4 separate regions of the Homo sapiens genome follow, and regions 1, 3 and 4 are each linked to region 2. The links come from fine-mapping of genetic effects on gene expression. A gene starts in region 2. Each other region holds a variant in brackets. All regions are shown on one strand. Distances are between the middles of the regions.

Region 1 (5,147 bases), 70 kb after region 2:
TGCCACCCCAGCGTGCAGGCCTTCTCTGAACAGCTGCACATGAGGCCACTCACGTGGCCTGCTGACACTGTGTTGCTGTCATCCCTGGCTCTTTCCTCTTCCCCGTCTCCTCATCCCCTGGGTTTTACCTGCTAATCGGCTCTCTGTCCATGTGGCTAATGTTTTGGTTCAAGCCTACATGACTCGGACTGGTGCAGTAGCCTCCTTCCTGGTCACGAGCACGTGTATTCCATTCCAAGATCTGGCCCCAACCTCTGCACACCCTGTGCCCTCCACTGCCCCTGGCCACTCTTGCTTCCCAAGACATGGCTTATTCTTTCCTGTGCTACACTCAGGGTTGTCTCCAGACACTCCTGTTGACCCCCAGTGGCCTGGCCGAGCTTGGTCCTGCCCTCTGTGAATTCCCGGGTCCTTGCTGGTGCCTGAGGAGCTGCGTTCCTCCTCGCCGGCGGTGTCAGAGCTGCCCGGGCAGCAGCCCCGCTAGAGGGCATGTTCCTTGGGGCAGGAACTGTCTGGCTCCCTCTGGCCCCCAGCCCCATGCCAGACCTGCCTCTGGGCCCCAGTGATGTCTGCGGACCTACACCCAGCGTCTGTCCAGGCAGCCTGTCATGGCCCCTTCTCCTCGGGATGACCGGGCACCTCTGCTGTCTTTGCAGGTATCTGGGCTCATGGCGACTACTGCAGAATCAACCCCAAGACCGGGGGCATCGTCATGCTTGGCCGGAGGTAAGGGCTGCAGAGTCGGCTTCTCTTTCCTGGAGCCCCACCTTCCAGAGGCATGGGGGTGGGAGAGGAGGTGCTTTCTATAAAAGTCAGTGACCCCCTTCCTGGGCACCTCACTCCACTCCAGCACCAGGGTGTCCACACCACCCACACCTCTGCTGGTGTCTGGGACCCCCCAGCCCCCACCGGCTGGTGCGCCATGTTTCCCCACCCCTGTGCCTGTGCACACACCATCCCTGGGCCTGAAGACCCCCTCTGAGGAAGCATTGTCTGCTCAGTCTGCAACATGGCTGACTGTCCCTCATCTTGGACCCTTCCTGTGTCATTCCTGGGGTGGCGCATCCCTGTGCCAGCTTCCTTCCCGAGGGATGGGTCTGGGCGTGATCCAAGTCTCCCTGCCCTGTGATGGGGTTCTCGGGTAGGGAGTGTCAGGATGGGGGTTCCACAGCAAAGGCACAGCAGTGTCCACACCTGCAATGGGGGACACGTGTGCAGGTGGGAAGGCAGTGAGGTGACAGATGTTCCTGCCTCCCTCGATGGAAAGCTTTAACCTGAGAGGGAGAAAGAGCCGGGTGGTAGGGCAAGGAGCTGGGGAGCGGAGTGTCCGTGACTAGTCCTGGGGGATGCCATGGGAAAGTGGGGGGTGACTGCCCTCCCGTGGGACCCCTGGGACTTGCTTCACTCCAGAGCTGCGGTGTGGCCCTGACCTCTTCTCTCTTTCCAGTGACGGCACCCTCAACCCCAACGGGGTGCGGTTCGGCAGCTCGGAAATCTATAACATTGGTACGTGCTTCCCCTCCCTGAGCGTTCTCCAGTCTCCAGGAAGGAGGAGGGTCCTGGCGGGAGCCCCAGGAGCCCCACCTTTGGCACAACTCTGGCCCCTTGTTCTCTGGTGTGACAGTGGACATTTGTGAGCCTGACCTCCTTTCCAGAACATACCTTGCCCACACTGCCATCCTCATAAAACCTCAAATGGGGTCTTTAAGGTCCCTTTGCCCATCCTCTTCCTCATTATAGCTCATCCTCCCGGTGAGCTCTGCTGGGCTGGTTACTTGTGTCTATCTACTCTTTTTTTTTTTTTTGGAGACAGAGTCTCGCTGTGTCACCCAGGCTGGAGCGCGATCTTGGCTCACTGCAACCTCTGCCTCCTCAGTAGCTGGGATGATAGACATGCACCACCATGCCCAGCTAGTTTTTGTATTTTTAGTAGAGATGGGGTTTCACCGTGTTGGCCAGGCTGGTCTCGAACTCCTGACCTCAAGTGATC[C/T]GCCTGCCTCGGCCTCCCAAAGTGCTGGGATTACAGGCATGAGCCACCACGCCCGGCCAACTTGTGTCTACTCTTTATGGTTGAAGAAACCAGAAGCACAGAGAGGGTTCAGGATTGCTGAAGGTCACACAGCATCATGCAGGACACCAAGCACAGAGAGTGTAGGCCTGTGGATCTCACAACTGTACAGTGGAGTCACCTGTGGGCCTTCAAACTTCCCAGCCCAGGGACCCAGACCCAGCCCAGGCCGCAGAGTTGGTCAGATGGCCTCTTATGCTAGTGCTTAGGTCAGAGTCCTAAACTTATGTCAAGGTCGTTTGTGTGGCCAGGGTAGAGAAATCCCGATGTCTGATTCCAGCCTTTTTTCCTCACTCCAGTGGAGTCCCCACCACAGGCACCTGCTTTCTTTTTTAAAAAAATTTTTTTTTGAGACAGGGTCTTACTCTCTTCACAGGCTGGAGTGCAATAGTGTGATCTCAGCTCACTGCAACCTCCGCCTCCTGGGCTCAAGCAATCCTCTCACCTCAGCCTCCTGAGTAGCTGGGTCTACAGGCGTGCACCACCATGCCCAGCTAATTTTTGTATTTTTTGTAGAGATGAGGTTTTGCCATGTTGGCCAGGCTGGTCTCAAACTCCTGAGCTCAAGTAATCAACCCACTTCGGCCTCCCAAAGTGCTGGAATTACAGGTGTGAGCCACTGTGCCCGGCCACCTGCCTCCTTTTTTGGGAGGCCGACAGGGTCTCACTCTGTTGGCCAGGCTGGGGGGCAGTGGCGCCATCATAACTCACTGTAGCCTCGACCTCCTGGGCTCAGGCGATCCTCCTGCCTCAGCTTCCCGAGTAGCTGTGTCTCCAGGTGTGTGTCACCATGCCTAACTTAGGTTTTGATTTTTCGTAGAGACAAAGTCTCCCTATGTTGTCCAGGCTGGTCTCAATCTCCTGGACTTAAGTGATCCTCTCACCTCAGCCTCCCAGAGTGCTGGGATTATAGGCGTGAGCCACCATGCCCGGCCCTCTTTTTTATCTTGAATTAATTTCTCATTAAGTAAGGCCCACACCTGGCTTCCTGGTAGAACATCACCCATCCTGCCAAACCTGAAGCTCTCTCTGCCTCCCCAGTGATGGGTTTTCTTCCGCTTGTGAAACGGCCTCCTCAGCAAATGTCCCTCCAAGGCCCTTCTCCTGGGTGGACTGGGAGAACACAGGCACCGCTGGAAGGCTTGGGGGACCCAGCCTGCCCCTCCTGCTCTGCCAGGTTGCTGTGAGGCCCGACCCCACACTGAGGGGCCCCCTGCGTGAATGTGCACCCTCTCCTGTCTCCACAGTGGAATCCTTCGAGGAGGTGGAGGACAGCCTGTGTGTCCCCCAGTATAACAAGTACAGGGAGGAGAGGGTGATCCTCTTCCTGAAGATGGCCTCCGGGCACGCCTTCCAGCCTGACTTGGTTAAGAGGATCCGTGACGCCATCCGCATGGGCTTGTCTGCGCGACACGTGCCCAGCCTCATCCTGGAAACCAAGGGCATCCCGGTATGGCCATCTCCCGCCAGCGAGGAGACCGCAGCCATCGCCCCACGAGCCCACACATTGAGGGGCGCTTACATCTGAGCAGCTTGCCGGTGCTTTATATATCGTTTGTCCACGTTGCCTAGCAACGCCATCCTCTCCCTGCCATCCTTTTTCCTACCCTTCCTAAGACTGCATTTAAAGCAACTTCTGCTAAATACCCATGTTCAGAGGGTTAGCAGGCCCAGCCCTGCAGGTCCAACTGGCTTCTCCCTGCTATCCCCTGGTTTTAGTGTATTCTCAAAATTTTTAATGAGAACATTAATTTTAACTTTTTATTTTTTATTTTATTTTTTTGAGACTGAGTCTGTCACCCAGGCTGGAATGCAATGGCTCAATCTCAGCTCACTGCAACCTCCGCTTCCCAGGTTCAAGCAGTTCTCCTGCCTCAGCCTCCTGAGTTAACTGGTAGCTGGGATTACAGTCACATGCCAGCATGCCTGGCTAATTTTTGTATTCTTAGTAAAGATGGGGTTTTGCCATGTTGGCCAGGCTGGTTTCAAACTCCTGACCTCAAGTGATCCGCCCACCTCAGCCTCCCAAAGTGCTGGGATTACAGGCGTAAGCCACTCTACCCAGCCAATTTTAACTTTTTAAAGTGCTGCTGGGAGCCGTTGCTGTTGCCTTTTAGTTTTAAGTTCTGCTGGTACAGACAAGACTTGACTCTTTTTAGAGGCAGGTCTTCCTAAGGCTGTGTCGTCATCCCCCAGCCCCTGGCCCCAGTACGCTCTGCTTTGATTCTAAGTGGGGGAGGAGGAGGGTCACCCAAATTGGATCACAGCTTTCATTTGCATTGCTTACAAAACGGATACCCCGCAAGCTGACAGAAGCTGCTGTGTGTGTGTGAGTGTGTGTGTGTATGTGAATGTATACAACAATTTAGACAGTGGCAGGCTGTATTTGAAGCCTATGGAATGGCTATTCGTTAAGGAGAAGATGGGAGCACACACTCACTGGGTTCCCAGGGGAAGCTGACTTTGATGTTGCCCGGGAGCAGGGCTGATTCTGTGAGGTGTAACTAGAGACAGGATTTACCAGGAGAGTCTGCTTCCTGGAGAATGTTGAAATATCTGATGCCGTTTACTTTGAAACCCGTAGATCATTCTCTTTGCCTTAAAAGTTATTTCAACATCTTCAAAACAACCTGTCCAGGAGTGGGGGCTGGGGAGAGCGCTTGCAGCACGACAACGGTGTGCAATCCCTGATCATCCCTGGAAGACTGACTCCTACTCGGGACCCTGTTCCTCCTCCTCCCGGCGCCTGTCCACATCTGCGCTGACTCCCACTCGGGACCCCTGTCCCTCCTCCTCCCGGCGCCTGCCCGCATCTGCGGTGTTGGTTGCTTTTTGTGGTGTCCACACGTTTCCTTTGTGTTCTGGTTCTGCATGGGAAGAGCCCTGCAGCTTGGGGCTTTCCATCCATCTCTTTCTTTTTCCCTTATTTTTGGTTGGTGACTCTTGGCGGCTCTCTGTGGGGACACTGATGCTCTCCAAGAAGGTACTTCTTGAATCAGTGACCCTTATTGTCTTTTTCTGATGAGGGTCTAAGGTTTTCCTTCAGTGAATCAGTGCTGTCTTATCTGGAACATTTTAG
Region 2 (5,147 bases):
TGTGTGTGAATTTAGCCACTTTACAGTCCTTGTTCCCAGCAATTTGGAACTTTCCTTTTGATTTGATCAAGTCAGATATAGTTGATCAAACCCAATGGGAAAAGACCAAAGCAACAACAAAAACAGAGACAAACAAGCAACCAAAAAAGCATTTAAGCCAAACAAAAAATGGCACAACTTATATGATCACTGAGCACGCTCTAATGGTAAGGATAAATTAATGTTAGAGGAAAGCGGTCCCGATCCAGACCCCAAGAGAGGGTTTTTGGATCTCACGCAATAAAGAATTCAAGGCGAGTCTACAGACTAAAGCAAATGCAAGTTCCTTAGGAAAGTAGAGGAATAAAAAGATGGCTACTCCATAGACAGAGCACCCTGAGGGGTGCTGGTTGCCCATTCTCATGGTTATTTCTTGATGATATGCTAAACAAGGGGTGGACTATTCATGCCTCCCCTTTTTAGACCATATAGAGTAACTTCCTGACATTGCCATGGCATTTGTAAACTGTCATGGTGCTGATGGGAGTGTAGTAGTGAAGTCAAGCAGAGGTCACTCTCATCACCACCTTGGTTTTGGTAGGATTTAGCCGGCTTTTTTACTGCAGCGTGTTTTATCAGCAAGGTGTTTATGACTTGTATTTTGTGCCGACCTCCTGTCTCATCCTGTGACTTAGAATGCCTTCACTGTCTGGGAATGGAGCCTAGTAGATCTCAGCCTCATTTTACCCAGCCCCCACTCAAGATGGAGTTGCTCTGGTTCAAATGCCTCTGACATTAAGACCAGCTGGCTGTTAACCTTAACTTTAGCCAAGACAAACCCCAATTCAGTTACTTACCTAGGGATGGGTCTTAGGCTGTAGACTGCTCTCTACCATTCTAGAAGCAGGAAAAAAGACCTCATCTTCCCTGTTGGAAGCGAGCTCAAACTCCATAAAGGAGTTACCTGCCTTCCATTGTCATGGAAGCAGGAAACCTTGCCTTCCTTGTTGGAAGCAAGTAAAACTGCAAAGAAAAGAGTTGTACAGCAAAATAAACTTTAGATCTCCACCAAATTTTGGGAGATCAGGGAGGCTCTGGAGGGGGTGCTCTCAGACCTGGGCTCACTCTTGTAATCCCAGCACTTTGGGAGGCCGAGGCGGGTGGATCACCTGAGGTCAGGACTTCAAGACCAGCCTGGCCAACATGGTGAAATCCCGTCTCTACAAAAATGCAAAAATGAGCCGGGCTCGGTAGCTCACGCCTGTAATTCCAGCACTTTGGGAGGCTGAGGCGGGCGGATCACCTGAGGCCGGGAGTTGGAGACCAGCCTGACCAACATGGAAAAACCCTGTCTGTACTAAAAATACAAAATTAGCCAGGCGTGGTGGCACATGCCTGTAATCCCAGGTACTCGAGAGGCTGAGGCAGGAGAATTGCTTTAACCTGGGAGATGGAGGTTGCCGTGTGCCGAGATCTCGCAATTGCACTCCAGCCTGGGTAACAAGAGCGAAACTTCGTCTCAAAAAAACAAAACAAACAACAACAACAACAAAAAAAAAAACACGAAAAATTAGCTGGGCATGATGGCGTGTGCCTGTAATCCCAGCTACTCAGGAGGCTGAGGCAGGAGAATCGCTTGAACCTGGGAAGCAGAGGTTACAGTGAGCTGAGATTGGGACATTGCACTCCAGCCTGGGCGACTGAGTGAGACTCAAAAAAAAAAAAAAAGCTAAGGCGGGGAGGGGGCCTTCCAGGTCATAGGTAGATAAGGGACAAATGGCTGCATTCTTTTGAGTTTTCAATTAGCCTCTGCAAAGGAGGCAATCAGGTGTGCATTTAACTCAGCAGAGGGGTGACTTTGAATAGAATGGAGGCAGGTTAGCCCTAAGCAGTTCCCAGCTTTTCTTTTCCCTTTAGCTTAGTAGTGGGGCCCCAAGATTTATTTTCCTTTCACAAATGTGTATTTTGATACCCATTGGCATACTATGTATATTATTGTATTATACTATGACATTATCTTGTGTATGTACACGATGTACTTATTTGTTAATCGTCTCCCGTCTTCCTCACACCTGTACCCCTCCTCTCCTGTTGACAGAGAACAAGAATTTTGTTTTGTTCGCTGCTGTATCCGCAAAGCTCCCAAAGTCCTCCGAATGCCGCAGGCTCTCAGTAAAGACCTGCAGGAAGAAATAGCGAATGAATGATGTACACGTGTAGGAAACAGCGGGCTCGGACGCCTGGCTTCTCCGGCTGCCCTAACGCCCTCCAGCTCCAGGTGAGGTCGGGGAGCTGGGGCCAAGGCTCGTGAGCGCCCCTCACCCCCACGCCCCCCGGCCGCGGGCGCTGGAGCCGGCGGCTGCGAGCACTCCTTTGAGCGGCGCTGCACTCAGCGGAGGGTTACAGGCGGGAGGGCGGGGCCTGGAAGGGGGCGGGGATTCGAGGCGGGGCCTGCGGGGCGGGGCCTGGGCCAAGCGGCCCGCAGGAGGCGGCGGCGGCCGTTCAGTCCCTTGTTCCCCGCCGCCGCCGTCGCTGACCCAGCCCGCCAGGCGCTCCTGACCGTCGCTTCCTCCGGTCCCAGGTCCCCGGCCCTCGCCTCAGCCCCGGCCCCTGGTCCCCAGCCCTCGTCGCAGCCCCGGCCGCCCGCCGCCGCCATGTCCAAGGAGGAGCGCCCCGGTCGGGAGGAGATCCTGGAGTGCCAGGTGATGTGGGAGCCTGACAGTAAGAAGAACACGCAGATGGACCGCTTCCGGGCGGCTGTGGGCGCCGCCTGCGGCCTGGCGCTGGGTGAGAGTCGGGCGCGCGGCCGGGCCTGCGGGGGATGGGCGGGAGCCGTGCAGGGTGGTTGGGTGGTCTCCCCATGGCTAGTTTCACGCTTCTGGGGCTGGAGGAGCCACTTGATGGCGGGGAGGCCTTCTGACTGCGGGGTTCCCCCCAGTCTTGGGGAACATCACCCCTCCACAGCACCTCCTGGCACTTCCTGACTCTGCAGCGTCTCCTCTGCATGTGGGGGTCACCCTCTCCCCGGGAGTGTCACCCCTCGGGAGGGCCAGCTGCCTGTTGACCGTGTGACCCCTTGCTAGGCTTTCCTACCTGTGAGGTGCTCCCTGGAGTCTTGACCTCCGGCCTGTGGGGGCTTCCCCCGGACATAGGGCCTTTTTGACTTGCAGCTCTTCCTCTGTTTGTGGGGGTCCCTTGCCAGTCCCCAGTGCCGTGCACTCTGTCCCCCTGACCTCCCTCATCTCCAGCTGCCCCTGCTGGAGGCCAGCACCTAGCAGGATGGTCAGGCAGGAGGCCCTGTCCACGTGTCTACACTCCCAGCCCCCAAACAGAACCTAGTAAAAGACTCTCTTTCCACCCATCACCTTGAACCTCAGAAACTGCCTCTCTCGGTGCGGGTGGGGCAAAGGCTCCTTCTCCGTGGGGTAACCGCTCCGGGTGCTCTTCCTGAGCTCTAGCTGGCTTGCCCAACTACCAGCTCCACCCCTCCACCCTGCCTCCCCTAGGTATTCCTAGGGGATTTTTTTTTTTTTTTTTTGAGACAGTTTCTCTCTCGTTGCCCAGGCTGGAGTGCAATGGCGAGATCTCGGCACACTGCAACCTCCGCCTCCCGGGTTCAAGTGATTCTCCTGCCTCAGCCTCCCGAGTAGCTGGGATTACAGGCATACACCACCACGCCTGGCTAATTTTGTATTTTTAGTAGAGACGGAGTTTCTCCATGTTGGTCAGGCTGGTCTCGAACTCCTGACCTCAGGTGATCCGATCGCCTTGGCCTCCCAAAGTGCTGGGATTACAGGTGTGAGCCACGGCGCCTGGCCTCCTAGGGGATTTTTAACTCATGGTCTCCCCTCCTCACCCCCTCCGCTGGCGCAGGGACTCCCTTGTTTCTGTTGGTGGCGTCACTGTTCTTGCTCAGGCTCACAGGGATGGACACCCCAGTCACCTGTGGCACCAGAAGTCTTCTGCCACAGCCCCATGTCGCTCACATCTCCTCCTTTGCAGCCCCTTGTCAGGGGTTCTGGGGCCTCCTTTCCTCCTCACCAAACAGTGGTTGGTTTTCCTGCTTCCTGCTTTTCCATCCATTTGCATCCTGCTTGCTTTGCCAGAGTAATCTTGAAGCATACAGGTCTTACTTTGTCACTCCTTGGCTCAGAAGTTCTCAGTGGTTCCTTGTTGACCACAAAATTGCAGACGGCTGCCTGGCAGCTTCCAGGCCCTCCACAGCAGTGGGGAGCTTCCACAGAGTCATTTTCCTAGGCTAACCCAGAGCTGTTCCTCTCCTTCCCTTCCTCTCCCTTGGAGACAGGTGTAGTCTGTTGCCCCAGGGGCTTCTGGACAGCAGTTGGTAAATGAGTATGTGTTGGATTAGGGCAGCCTGGAGACTCCTGGAAGAAGCAGGAGGCTGCCATGTGGGATTATGTTCTTCCTCTGTGTCACCTTGCCTTGATTCCATCTGTTTCCTCTGCCAGCAATAACAGAATGCTGGTCTGGTGCCTGTCTAGCCCTGATGTTATGAAATAATTTCAGATCGGGCAGCCCTATTAGATGGGTGAAACCACCTTCCTCCGTGGGAAGTGTTGAAGAGAAGGGATTTGTAATCTGACTATCTGGATTTTTTTTTTTTTTAAGCCTCGCTTTTCTCCCCCAGGCTGGAGTGCGACGGCGCAATCTCGGCTCATTGCAACCTCTGCCTCCTGGGTTCACGCAGTTCTCCTGCCTCAGCCTCCCGAGTAGCTGGGATTACAGGTGCCTGCCACTATGCCCGGCTAATTTTTGTATTTTTAGTAGAGACGGGGTTTCACCATGTAGGCCAGGCTGGTCTAGAACTCCTGACCTCAGGTGATCCACCTGCCTCGGCCTCCCAAAGTGCTGGGATTACAGGTGTGAGCCACCGTGCTCGGCCGACTACCTGGGTTTTGAACTAGCTCTACCACTTACCAGCTGTGTGATCAGGAGGAAGTCATTGGATCTCTTCATGCCTTGTTTCCTCATCTGTAAAATGGGCATAACAGGACCTGAGTCATTGAGTGGGTGTGCAGGTGACAGGAGATGGTCAAGCCCAGTGCTCAGCTCTGCCCTGGGTCCCTGGGGTTGTGGAGTAAACATGAGCAAGTGCTGGGAGGGCCCGAGCATGGCTGCGGAGCTCCTTTCCCTCCTTCAGGGCTCTC
Region 3 (5,147 bases), 43 kb after region 2:
GTGGATGCCACAGATAAAGCAGAAACGGGTACGTGCCCATCTGTGGAGAATTGACGGGGCCGGGGGAGCCACCCTGTGGGCTTTTCATTCTTAGAAGAGCTTTAACAAAGGTAATCATTATGTACTGTGATTTATGGGCCATTTGACAGAAAAGGCTTTTCTCTGTGTGAAGTATCTGATTAGATCTGGCACTTTATAATGGGATTCTTATAGGAGGTAGAGGTGGGATGGGGTTTTCATTGGCTGTAAAGTTCCACAGTGAATAGTTTTCCTGACATGCTGGAGCAGACGGCTTTGTTTGTTTCTTGCTTAGAGTTGAATTATTTTGGATGCCCTTTTTAAACCACCATGTCTTCCCCAGGAGAAACCTTTATATTTAAGGATGCCTTCTCATGCAAGACAGCAAAATTCTTCATTTTAGTCTGTATGGCATTTGTATTTCAGAGTAATTATCCCTAGCAAATGGCTGCAGGCTGCGTTTAACTGATTCCCACCTCCTTCCCTGAGAGAAAGTCCATTTGTCAGTTGAGTATAGGGCCAATGTTTTGAGATGGATGTTGCTGCTGAATTCAAAATAGAAAACCACCTTTTCCCAAGATGGCTTGTGGCTTCTGCGGCTGTTTCTAGTGCAGAAAACAAATCTCCTGTTTGTGTCGCCCCTTTGGTGGTTCTTGGCCACCTACAACAATGCTGCCTGTCAGCTTTGGGGGTAAGCCTAGGCACACTTCCTGGGTGACAGTCAATAGCTGGGATTAATTTTATTTGTTCTTGCACAGATATTTGTATCTTGCTATTGTAAACCTCAGGATCTAGTAAGTTAGTGACAACACATGATATTTGCTGAGCGGTTCTCTGTCATTGAGCTGTAGTTTAGGAAATTGACCCCACATCTGTAGGAAGGGCTCATTAATCTAGCATCTCCTCCTCTCCCTTCTCCCCACGGGGGAAGCATCTTACTTCAGACCCACTTGGTGAGTGCTTCCTTTTGGGCAATCATTGGAAACAAAGCGTTTGCTAATCAGGTGATCAATAGCAAACAAAGGACATGGGCTCAGAAGACTTCAAGGCCATTTCCAAAGCCTCCTTCAGCCGTGTTGGTACACACATGGCTTGTTCATTGTAAGTGATCCTTCTCCGTGGTGGTTATGAAAACACTTAAAATATTCTCTAAAAGACAGCCCTTGGCCCTGTCAGCAGTGCTGATTAAGCAACTTGAAACCTTCACTCGTTCGATGAGTTTTCCTTCAATTAGCTTGAATCTCTGAGATCTAACTGCCTCCCCTGGTCCCAGGAAGTTTCCAAATCTGGCCACCGTCCCCCTGGAATCCTGGCTTTTCTGGGGGTAGAAACAGAGGGAAGTGCACGGGTGGAATCAGTGGGTCCGGTCCAGCATTCTGGGACGTTCATGGCGTGTTTCCCTGCGTTTCGGCCCACAGTGTGTTTCTGGATGACTTTCTTGCCACCGGCACCAGTGAGCAGGCCCCGCAGCTGGAGTTCGAGCAGCTGCCCTTCAGCCACCCACTGTTCATCATGTTCTCATCGGGCACCACGGGCGCACCCAAGTGCATGGTGCATTCCGCTGGGGTAGGTCTCTGGGGAAGGCTCTGCAGGGCCTCCTGTTGTCTGTTTGCTTCAACAGGGCCTCCCAGCTGATGATGGCAGTGTTGGAGTTGTCAAACTGCACCCCATCCCCGGAGAGTCCAACGTGCAGCTTCTCTCCAAGTGGGGTGCTGCACGGAGATCCGGCACTGGGCCCAGGGCAGTGGAGTGCTGCCACTTCAAAGGCTGGGATGGCACCTAACACCATGGCGATAGGCTTGGAGGTCACTGTACAGCGCGGTGTGCCTTGGGGGTGGGGGGTGCGCTGGCTGAACCAGCTACTTTCACCCTGCAGGTCTGGACCACCTGGGGGATTGTGAACTCAATAGGTGGGCCCTGCCAGTATTTTAAAAAGAACGAATCAGAATAGACAAGAATAGATAATATTAGCGCAGTGCCAGACGCAATGGCCCACACCTATAACCCCAGCACTTTGGGAACCTGAGGTGGGCAGATTGCTTTGAGCCCAGGAGTTTGAGACCAGCCTGGCCAATATAGCAAAACCCCATTTTTACTAAAAAATACAAAAATTAACTGGACGTGGTGGCACATGCCTGTAGTCTGAGCTACTCGGGAGGCTGAAGTGGGACAATTGCCTGAACCCAGGGGGCGGAGGTTGCAGTGAGCTGAGATCATGCCACTGCACTCCACCTGGCAACAGAGCCAGACTCTGTCTCAAAAAATAAAAATAAAATAAAATATTAGCACAGAATAGGCTCATAAGAGGTATGGGTGGTGTTCTGTGAAGCTGTCATTACATGGAGCGGAATGTGTGCACGTGCTGGGGGCGTTGTAAAACTTATGTCTGACCGTGGGTTGTGGTAAAATATTTGAAAGCCACTGGTTAGGTTATTAGAAGGCTAGGTTACTAGGTTATTAGGTTATTATTAGAGTCTAATTAACTGAGAAAGAGCCTGCCCGTGCTGCGAGTCTGTTAGGGCTGCCATAACGAAACACCACAGGCTGTGTGGAACACCAAGGTGCCGCACAGTTGCTCTTGTCTGAGGCCTCTCTCCTTGGCTTGTGGACGGCCGCCTTCTTGCTCTGTCCTCGTGTGATCTTTCACGTGACACCGCTGGTGTCTCTGTATGGGTCCAAGCTTCTTCTCCTGAGGACCCCAGTCAGATCGGATCTGGGCCTGCTCTGACAGCCTCATTTAAACTCTGTCACCTTTTAAAGGCCCATTTAGTCACATTCTGAGATACTAGGTATTGGGCTTCAACATACGAATTTTGGGGGTACACAGTTCAGCCCATGACACATGCTTTTAATTTTTCTTATTTCACCGAAAGTCTAACTTTATTAAAGCACCTGAAATAATATGTTACTACTATGCAATAGAATGTATATGTATAGGTTAGTGACTTTTAACCTGTTATTTTATTTTATTTTATTTTTTTTTGAGATGGAGTCTTGATCTGTCGCCCAGACTGGAGTGCAGTGGTGTAATCTTGGCTCACTGCAACCTCTGCCTCCTGGGCTTAAGCA[G/A]TCCTCCCCTCTCAGTCTCCCATGTAGCTGGGATTATAGGCGTGTGCCGCTATGCCCTACTCGTTTTTTTGTTTGTTTTGTATTTTTGTGGCTTTTTTTTTTTTTTTTTAAGACCGGGTTTTGGCATGTTACCCAAGCTGGACTCAAACCCCTAGGCTCATATATTCCACCTGCCTTGGCCTCCCAAAGTGCTGGGATTACAGATGTGAGCCACCCATGCTCAACCAAACCTTTTATTTTTGAAAAAAATAAAATACCTAGAGAACCTCTAGAAAAGCTGCAAGAATAGTAAGCTCCATGGTACCCTTCAGCTGAATTCTTCCATTGTTGACATTCTGTCTTTAACATTTTCAACGTCCTTTTGTTTTGTTTTGTTTTGAGATAGTTTCTCACTTTGTTGTCCAGGCTGGAGTGCAGTGGCGTGATCATGGCTCACTGCAACCTCTACCTCCTGGGCCCAAGCGATCCTCCCACCTCAGTCTTCCAAGTACCTTGGACTACAGGCACGTGCTACTTTTTTGTTTTTGTAGAGATGGGGTCTTGCTATGTTCCCCAGGCTGGTCATGAACTCTTGGGCTCAAGTGATCCTCTCGCCTTGGCCTCCTGAGTGCTGGAATTACAGGCATGAGCCACTGTGCCTGATGTCAACATCCATTTTTAACACGTCCTAAAAGCCTCTTTCGCCTTCTTTCTCTCTCAGCGTATATACACATGTTGTTATTTTGCTTTTTGTTGAACCAGTTGAGAGTACGTTGGAGCCACAATGATCTTTCACTCTTTAATATTTCAGCACGTATCTCCCAAGAACAGGAGCGTTCTCTTACAGAAGAGTGTGTAGCGCGCTCATCAAATTCAGGAAGGTTGGCGTTGGTGCAGTGCCGCCCCCTCATCTATGGTCCACAGTCAGGTCGCCAGTTCCCCAGTAGCGTCCTAGCAGCTCAGGCGGTGGCACGTCAGTCGTCAGGTCTCCTGCATGTCTGGAGCAGCTCCTTGGGCTTCTTCGTCTTCCGTGACACTGACATTTTCAAAGAGCCCAGGCTCCTGGTTTGGCAGAATGGCTCTGTTTGGGTATGTCTGGTGTCTCCTCGTGGTTAGGTCCAGGTGATGCAGCTTTGGTGGGAACACGCTGGAAATGATGTGGTGTTCTTCTCCGTGCATCTATCGGGGGGATACAACGTTAGTGTATTTCATTTCTGTGATTTCACTAGGCCACTCTTCAGAAATGAAATGCCTGGGTCAATGTGGTGCTTTGCTTTTTTTTTTTTGAGGTGGAGTCCCGGCACTGTCACCTGGGCTGGAGTGCAGTGGCTCAATGTTGGCTCACTGCAACCTCTGCCTCCCGGGTTCAAGCGATTCTTGTGCCTCAGCCTCCTGAGTAGCTGGGATTATAGGCGCCCGCGACCACGGCCGGCTAAGTTTGTGTGTGTGTGTGTGTGTGTGTGTGTGTGTGTGTGTGTGTGTGTGTGTGTGTGTGTGTGTTTAGTAGAGACGGGGTTTCACTATGTTGGCCAGGCTGGTCTCCAACTCCTGACCTCGTGATCCACCTTCCTTGGCCTCCCAAAGTGCTGGGATTACAGGCCTGAGCCGTCACGCCCAGCTGAATGTAGTGCTTTTCTAATAACTGCTATCACATCTTACTTCCTCTGATCCTCTTCTGCCCCTGGGCTTCCTGACTCGGTTGAATCCTTACCTTGCACTCAGACTTCTCCTGGGCCGGTCTGTGGGAGTCAGGATGCTTGCGACGCCGTGGCTCCCACCCTCACGCTGCTCTAGGCTCTCCTCTGGGCCAGCTCTTCAGCTCTCCCCATAGCTCATTTCCCCATTTCCCTATCAGTTGGCTCAGCCTATAGGGAGGAGAAAAATCCACTGTATCTTGGTCAAACCTTCTGATCACCACTTTTTCCCCCAAACTCAGAAGAAGAGAATTCTCCAAGTGGAGAAACCTTTGCTTGATAAGACAGTGGCATTTGAAAAGGAAATATACAAGTTCCCTTATTCTAGCTCACTTAGCTTTTATAGACGTTCCCTCTACCTAGAAGCAGTTTGAATCCCTTCCATAA
Region 4 (5,147 bases), 78 kb after region 2:
TATCCTGGTCAGGCTGACCCTGAACCCTGAGAGATACTCTTTTTTATATTCCCATCTGGAATATGCACTGCCGGGGTCAGTGGGGTGTCTGGAGGGCCCTCTCGAGGCCAGCTTGGATGTGACACGTGTCGTGGGTCCCAACGGGGCCCAGTAGAGTGTGCAGCGTTAGAAAAATGAACATGCTCGGCTGGGCGCGGTGGCTCACGCCTGTGATCCTAGCACTTTGGGAGGCCAAGATGGGTGGATCATGAGGTCAGGAGATCAAGACCATCCTGGCTAACATGAGACCATCCTGGTGAAACCCCATCTCTACTAAAAATACAAAAAATTAGCTGGGCGTGGTGGCAGGTGCCTATGGTCCCAGCTACTCAGGAGGCTGAGGTAGGAGAATGGTGTGAACCTGGGAGGGGGAGCTTGCAGTAAGCGGAGATTGCACCACTGCACTCCAGCCTGGGTGACAGAGTGCGACTCTGTCTCAAAAAAAAAAAAAAGAAAAAAAAAGAAAAAAAGAAAAATGAACATGCTCATGGTGACCTCTGGGCAACTTTGAAATAGCCTCAGTTTCTCAACAGCCGTGCCAGGGGGCGGGGGTGGGGTGTGGAGAGTGTTAGAGTTGAGTTTCAGCACCAGTCCTTGAAAGTGCCTTTCAGAAGAACAGGTTTTATCCCCCAAACAGAGAGACAGTGGTCAGTTCACCGTACTTCGGTGCACGTTTGCAGACCTGGTGGGAAGAGGGGCATCTTAGAGCCGAGACCCATTCACTCTTGGCACTCCAGGTGGAGCTGGGCCTTTGGGGCCTGGATATATCCAGGGCTGCGGATTTTCCCCCCTTCAGGTTTAAATGTTCCTGTTTTTCTACCTTTCCCTCGCAGTATACGCTCAACGGCAAGAAAGTGGAAGTTGCCGTCAAACAGATCATCGCTGGAAAAGCCGTGGAGCAAGGAGGTGCTTTCTCGAACCCCGAGACCCTGGATCTGTACCGGGACATCCCTGAGCTGCAGGGCTTCTGAGTCAGACTGGCTGGCGTGTCACTCAGCCGCACCCGTGTGCACTGTAACTTTTGTGTGCTCAAGAAATTATACAGAAACCTACAGCTGTTGTAAAAGGATGCTCGCACCAAGTGTTCTGTAGGCTTGGGGAGGGATCGTTTCTCTGTTTTGTTAAATCTGGTGGGTACCTGGATCTTCCACACGAGTGGGATTCTGGCCTTCAGAGACCAGGAGGGAGTGTCTGGGCCGCAGGTGTGGCACTGTGGTGAGAGTGTGTGTCTTTGCACACACAGTGCAGCGGGAACGGTGGGGCTGGCTGGTGCTGAAGACAGACACACTCCTGAGCCAAGGTCTTGTCTTCAACCTCCCCGTCCCGTTGTCCCATTTTGCTCTGTGAAGGTGCAAATCCCTTTCTTCCCTTCCCATCTCAGGCTCTCCTGTTTTCCCTCAGGGTCCAGTATGCCTTTGAGCTTTAGCTGTTAGAAAGGAACCCCCGTGACTTGACACAGCTTTCACAGCTGGCTGCTAGGACCGGCGGGCTGGGTGTTCACGTGTGTCTGTGTCATGGATGCAATGCAGGCCCTGGAGGACTGTGCGTCACCCGTCAACCAGAGCGTGCCTCCGGGCCAGCTTCCCTCCAAGGAATGAGTGGATTTCATACAGGATCTCTTTATTGCACAGACTGAATGGCTTTACATGTTTCTAATGTGAATTAGGCATGTGAAGCAGTGGGTGTCCACCCGTGTCCCTCATGGGTGAGCCCTCCAGCTGTGAGCCCAGGCAGTGTGGTCACCGAGTGAGGACCCTCCTCACCAGGAACCGCATCCCTGTGCTGCCTCCACCTGAGAGTTGCTAGGGGGTTCTTGTCGAGATCATGTCATCAGCACCCCTAAGTCAAGTCACGGGTTTCCATAGCCAGGCAGTTGGTATGTACAATTCAGTTCAGCGTATGAACTTGTATCTCTAATCTGATGTCCATTTTTATATTTTTTGAAACTGAGCACAATGAAATCCTTTCTTGAATCATTTTCCTTTTGGATTATAAAAATATGGGGGAAAGTGCTATGATGAATTTTATGCAATAAATGTATACATGTGTGCACATGCACCCATGCTGTGTGTGCAGTGTGCTGGTGTGTTTTCTCTGGAGGGGGGACCGCATCTGCGTGTGTGAGGCTGGTGGTGCTTGTGCGCCCGCCAACAGCTGTGCCCTGGAGTTGTGTGGTTCGAATTGTTGGGGGCACTTCCCAGGGCCCTGGTACTTACCCACATTCCCT[T/C]GTGACCAACGAGGAGTGCTGCTCAGTGTGAAGCCAGCACCCTGGGCCCCCTCCACCCTGAGATCCCCCAACACCCAGCGCCAGCCAGGTTTCTGGCTCCTTTCTTGTCATCGCAAGAGCTGCATGTCACTTGGGTTGTGTGTGGCTACATGCCACGGGATCCAGGCTTGGCCCAGCAGCGTTTATGGCTCTCACGTCACAGGAAGTTGGAGGCAGTCCATTCTCCCGGGGCCGGGCAGCAACTCCACAGTGCAGCAGTCCTGGCTCCTGTCTGCTGCACTCTGCTGTCCTCAGGATGTGGCAGTCATCATCTTGGCCCTGCCTGGCTGCCCCACCTCTAGTCTTTCATCCGTGCTGTAGGCAGGAAGAAGGTGGGAGTGAGAAGGGGGCTGGGTAAAGGCAAAAAGCTGCATCTCTGGAGTGTGTCCCTTTTTATCTGCAAAATGATGGCTTTTCTGGAAAGCCGGCAGCATCTGCTGGGCCTCACCAGCCAGCCTGGGGACACGCAGCCGCCTTCGCTGCAAGGGCATCCGGGGGTCTGAGTATTTCAAAGAGGACCTGTTCCCCTTTTTTGTGAGTTTCCAACAGCTGCTGTAACATTTCCACAAAGGCAGTGGCTTAACACAGCCCCAGTTTATTACAGTCCTGGAGGTCAGAAGTCTGCTGTGGGTCTCACTGGGCTGAAATCAGGGTGACAGCAGGGCTGTGTTCCTTCAGGAATCTGCAGGGGAGAATCCATTTCCTTGCCTTCTCCCGCTTCTAGAGGCCACTGTGTTTCTTGTCTGGTGCCCTGTTGTCTTCAGCAATGGCCGGTCACACCTTCCTTCCACTGTAGCTCTCTGACGCTGACACTCCCACCCACCGTGTCCACATGTAAGAACCCCCTGTGATTGCAGCAGGCCCACTTGAATAAGGATAATCTCCCTATTTTGATGTGTGCTGATTAACAACCTTAATTCCATCTGCAGCCCTCACTCCTCCTCACGACGTCGTAGTCCATTTTGTTTTGCTGTAACAGAATACCTGAAGCTGGGTGATTTATAAGTTAATAATTTATTAAGGGGTTCATTTGGTTCATGATTCTGGTGGCTGAAAAGTCCAAGACTGGGCAGCTGCATCTGGTGAGGGCCTCATGCTGCTTCCACTCAGGGCAGAACATGGAGGGGGAGCAGGTGCATGCAGAGATCACGCAGTGAGAGAGGAAACCAGACCATTCAACAACCACGCCCTTGGGAACTAATCTGTTCTCACGAGGCACAAGTGACGGTGAGAACTCACCCCCTACAGAGGGGATTAATGTATTCAGGAGGGATCTGACCCCTCCCAACACTGCTACATTGGGTGTCAATGTCAACATGAGTTTTGGCATATAGACAAGCCACATCCAACCCACAGCACCATGTAACCTAACGCATTCACAGGTTCCAAGGATTAGGATGTGGATATCTTTGGGGGGCTGCTACTCTGCTGACCTCACTTTGCAAACACAGTCTGGGTCCTGCTGGCCGAGGGAGAAGTGGATGGTGGTTGTTGGGAGCAGCAGGGAGCCCTGGTTGATGACACTTGGGCTGGGATTGTCCTCCCCTGTGAGTGGCCCGTGGGCCTTAGGGTTCAGGTCGGGCCTGGGGCCTGCAAGGTCCTCTCCTCTCACTGGGTGCCTGGAGATTCCCTTCATGTTGACAGTGCCTGAGGAGTCATTACAGCTTAATCAGCGTGCCCTTTAGTTCCAGCAAGACGGCCCAGGCTGAATAAGCCCACGCATCCTTATTAATAAGCCCTGCCGGACAACTTCATTAATGAGGGACAGATGGTCTGGAACAACAGCCAGTTGAGTGCACGTGGTGCTGAGCCTGCTTTTGACGTTCCTTGGCCCGAGCATCACTCTAAAGAACCCACCACCTGCCGGCCAGCTGCCTTTTCATCTCTGAGATGGCCGTGGGCTGCACCGTGCCTTCTCGTCTTCTTCCAGCTCCCCACCAGGCCTGGCCCATCAGGAGCTTCTGAAGGCATCAGGATCTGCCACACAGCCTGGCTAGGGCTGCCAGGATTCTGCTATCTCCCACGGCCAGCAGGCCTCTGAGCAGCTGGTCCTCCTCCAGGCCCTTCCTGCCCACCTCCAGGAACCTTCTCCAGGCTGGAGGCCTCCTTCTCATGCTTGGGCTGCCCAGCCCCACCTTCTCGCCCGGGAGGATTCTCCTCAACTGGAGCTGAACGATCAACTCCAGCTGCAGTCAGCCACTGACCTGTCCCCACAGGGGCATCTGAGCCCTCTAGGATAGGGCCCAGGTTGGCTCACTCATCTGTTTCCCAAACAGAAGGCCTGAAACCCACACGCCTTAGAAAAGGCATCCTCCTGATGTCGTACCACCCCTGTCACCATGGCTGTAGGTGAACAGAAGAGCCCCTTCCCTCGAGTCTGCAAATGCCCAGGAGAAGGGCTCATGGGGAACAACACTCCCTTTGAGGACCCAGCCACAACCTATCCTGTGATGGGCTCAAGCCTTCAGAGGGAATGTCACATGCAGCTTTATGGGGGATAATCTGTCACTGGGTTCAAGCTGGGCTGCTCTAACAGGTGCCCCCAAATCTGGCTCAATCCGGAATGTGTCTTCTCTCCTGTCACCGCTCTGAGGTGAATGGGTAGGCCAGGGCGGGTAGGTAGCTTTGTTTTGCAAGGTCACCCAAGGACCTGGGCTTCCAAATGGTTGCTGCCTCCCCTGGTGTGCAGGTCTTGTCCACTTGGAAGATGTTGGCTCACCACAGTCATGGAGGAGGTGACCTAACATTCACCCTCACCCCCTTGGCCACAACCTTGTCACCTGACTGCACTCAGCTGTGTAGGAGGCGGGGAGATGTGCTGCCCAGCAGGGTGACAGGTGCC

What was found. PIP is the estimated chance that this variant, and not a neighbour inherited with it, causes the effect.
Region 1: its variant is the best candidate, but not a certain one, in a credible set for the expression of AACS in hypothalamus (GTEx, PIP 0.76).
Region 3: its variant is the best candidate, but not a certain one, in a credible set for the expression of AACS in whole blood (TOPMed, PIP 0.66).
Region 4: its variant is the best candidate, but not a certain one, in a credible set for the expression of AACS in skeletal muscle (GTEx, PIP 0.58).

Annotation. Positions count from the first base shown.
Region 1 is chr12:125,133,347-125,138,493 of GRCh38, forward strand. AACS (acetoacetyl-CoA synthetase) reads left to right here. Exons shown (of 18, transcript NM_023928.5): 15 at 657-726; 16 at 1,448-1,506; 17 at 3,316-3,518. Among named protein-coding and RNA genes, the nearest start is that of TMEM132B, 50 kb to the right of the region's middle. RefSeq lists an enhancer at 1-546. The variant C/T (reference allele first, on the strand shown) is at 1,991.
Region 2 is chr12:125,062,952-125,068,098 of GRCh38, forward strand. It overlaps AACS (acetoacetyl-CoA synthetase), which reads left to right and starts at 2,484. Exons shown (of 18, transcript NM_023928.5): 1 at 2,484-2,766. The coding sequence starts at 2,634. LOC105370052 (a long non-coding RNA gene) reads right to left here. Exons shown (of 4, transcript XR_001749365.2): 3 at 2,052-2,159. RefSeq lists a silencer at 2,125-2,744.
Region 3 is chr12:125,105,685-125,110,831 of GRCh38, forward strand. AACS (acetoacetyl-CoA synthetase) reads left to right here. Exons shown (of 18, transcript NM_023928.5): 8 at 1,437-1,584. Among named protein-coding and RNA genes, the nearest start is that of AACS, 43 kb to the left of the region's middle. RefSeq lists an enhancer at 1-148. The variant G/A (reference allele first, on the strand shown) is at 3,088.
Region 4 is chr12:125,141,220-125,146,366 of GRCh38, forward strand. It overlaps AACS (acetoacetyl-CoA synthetase), which reads left to right. Exons shown (of 18, transcript NM_023928.5): 18 at 873-2,097. The coding sequence ends at 1,010. Among named protein-coding and RNA genes, the nearest start is that of TMEM132B, 43 kb to the right of the region's middle. RefSeq lists an enhancer at 1,888-2,462. The variant T/C (reference allele first, on the strand shown) is at 2,267.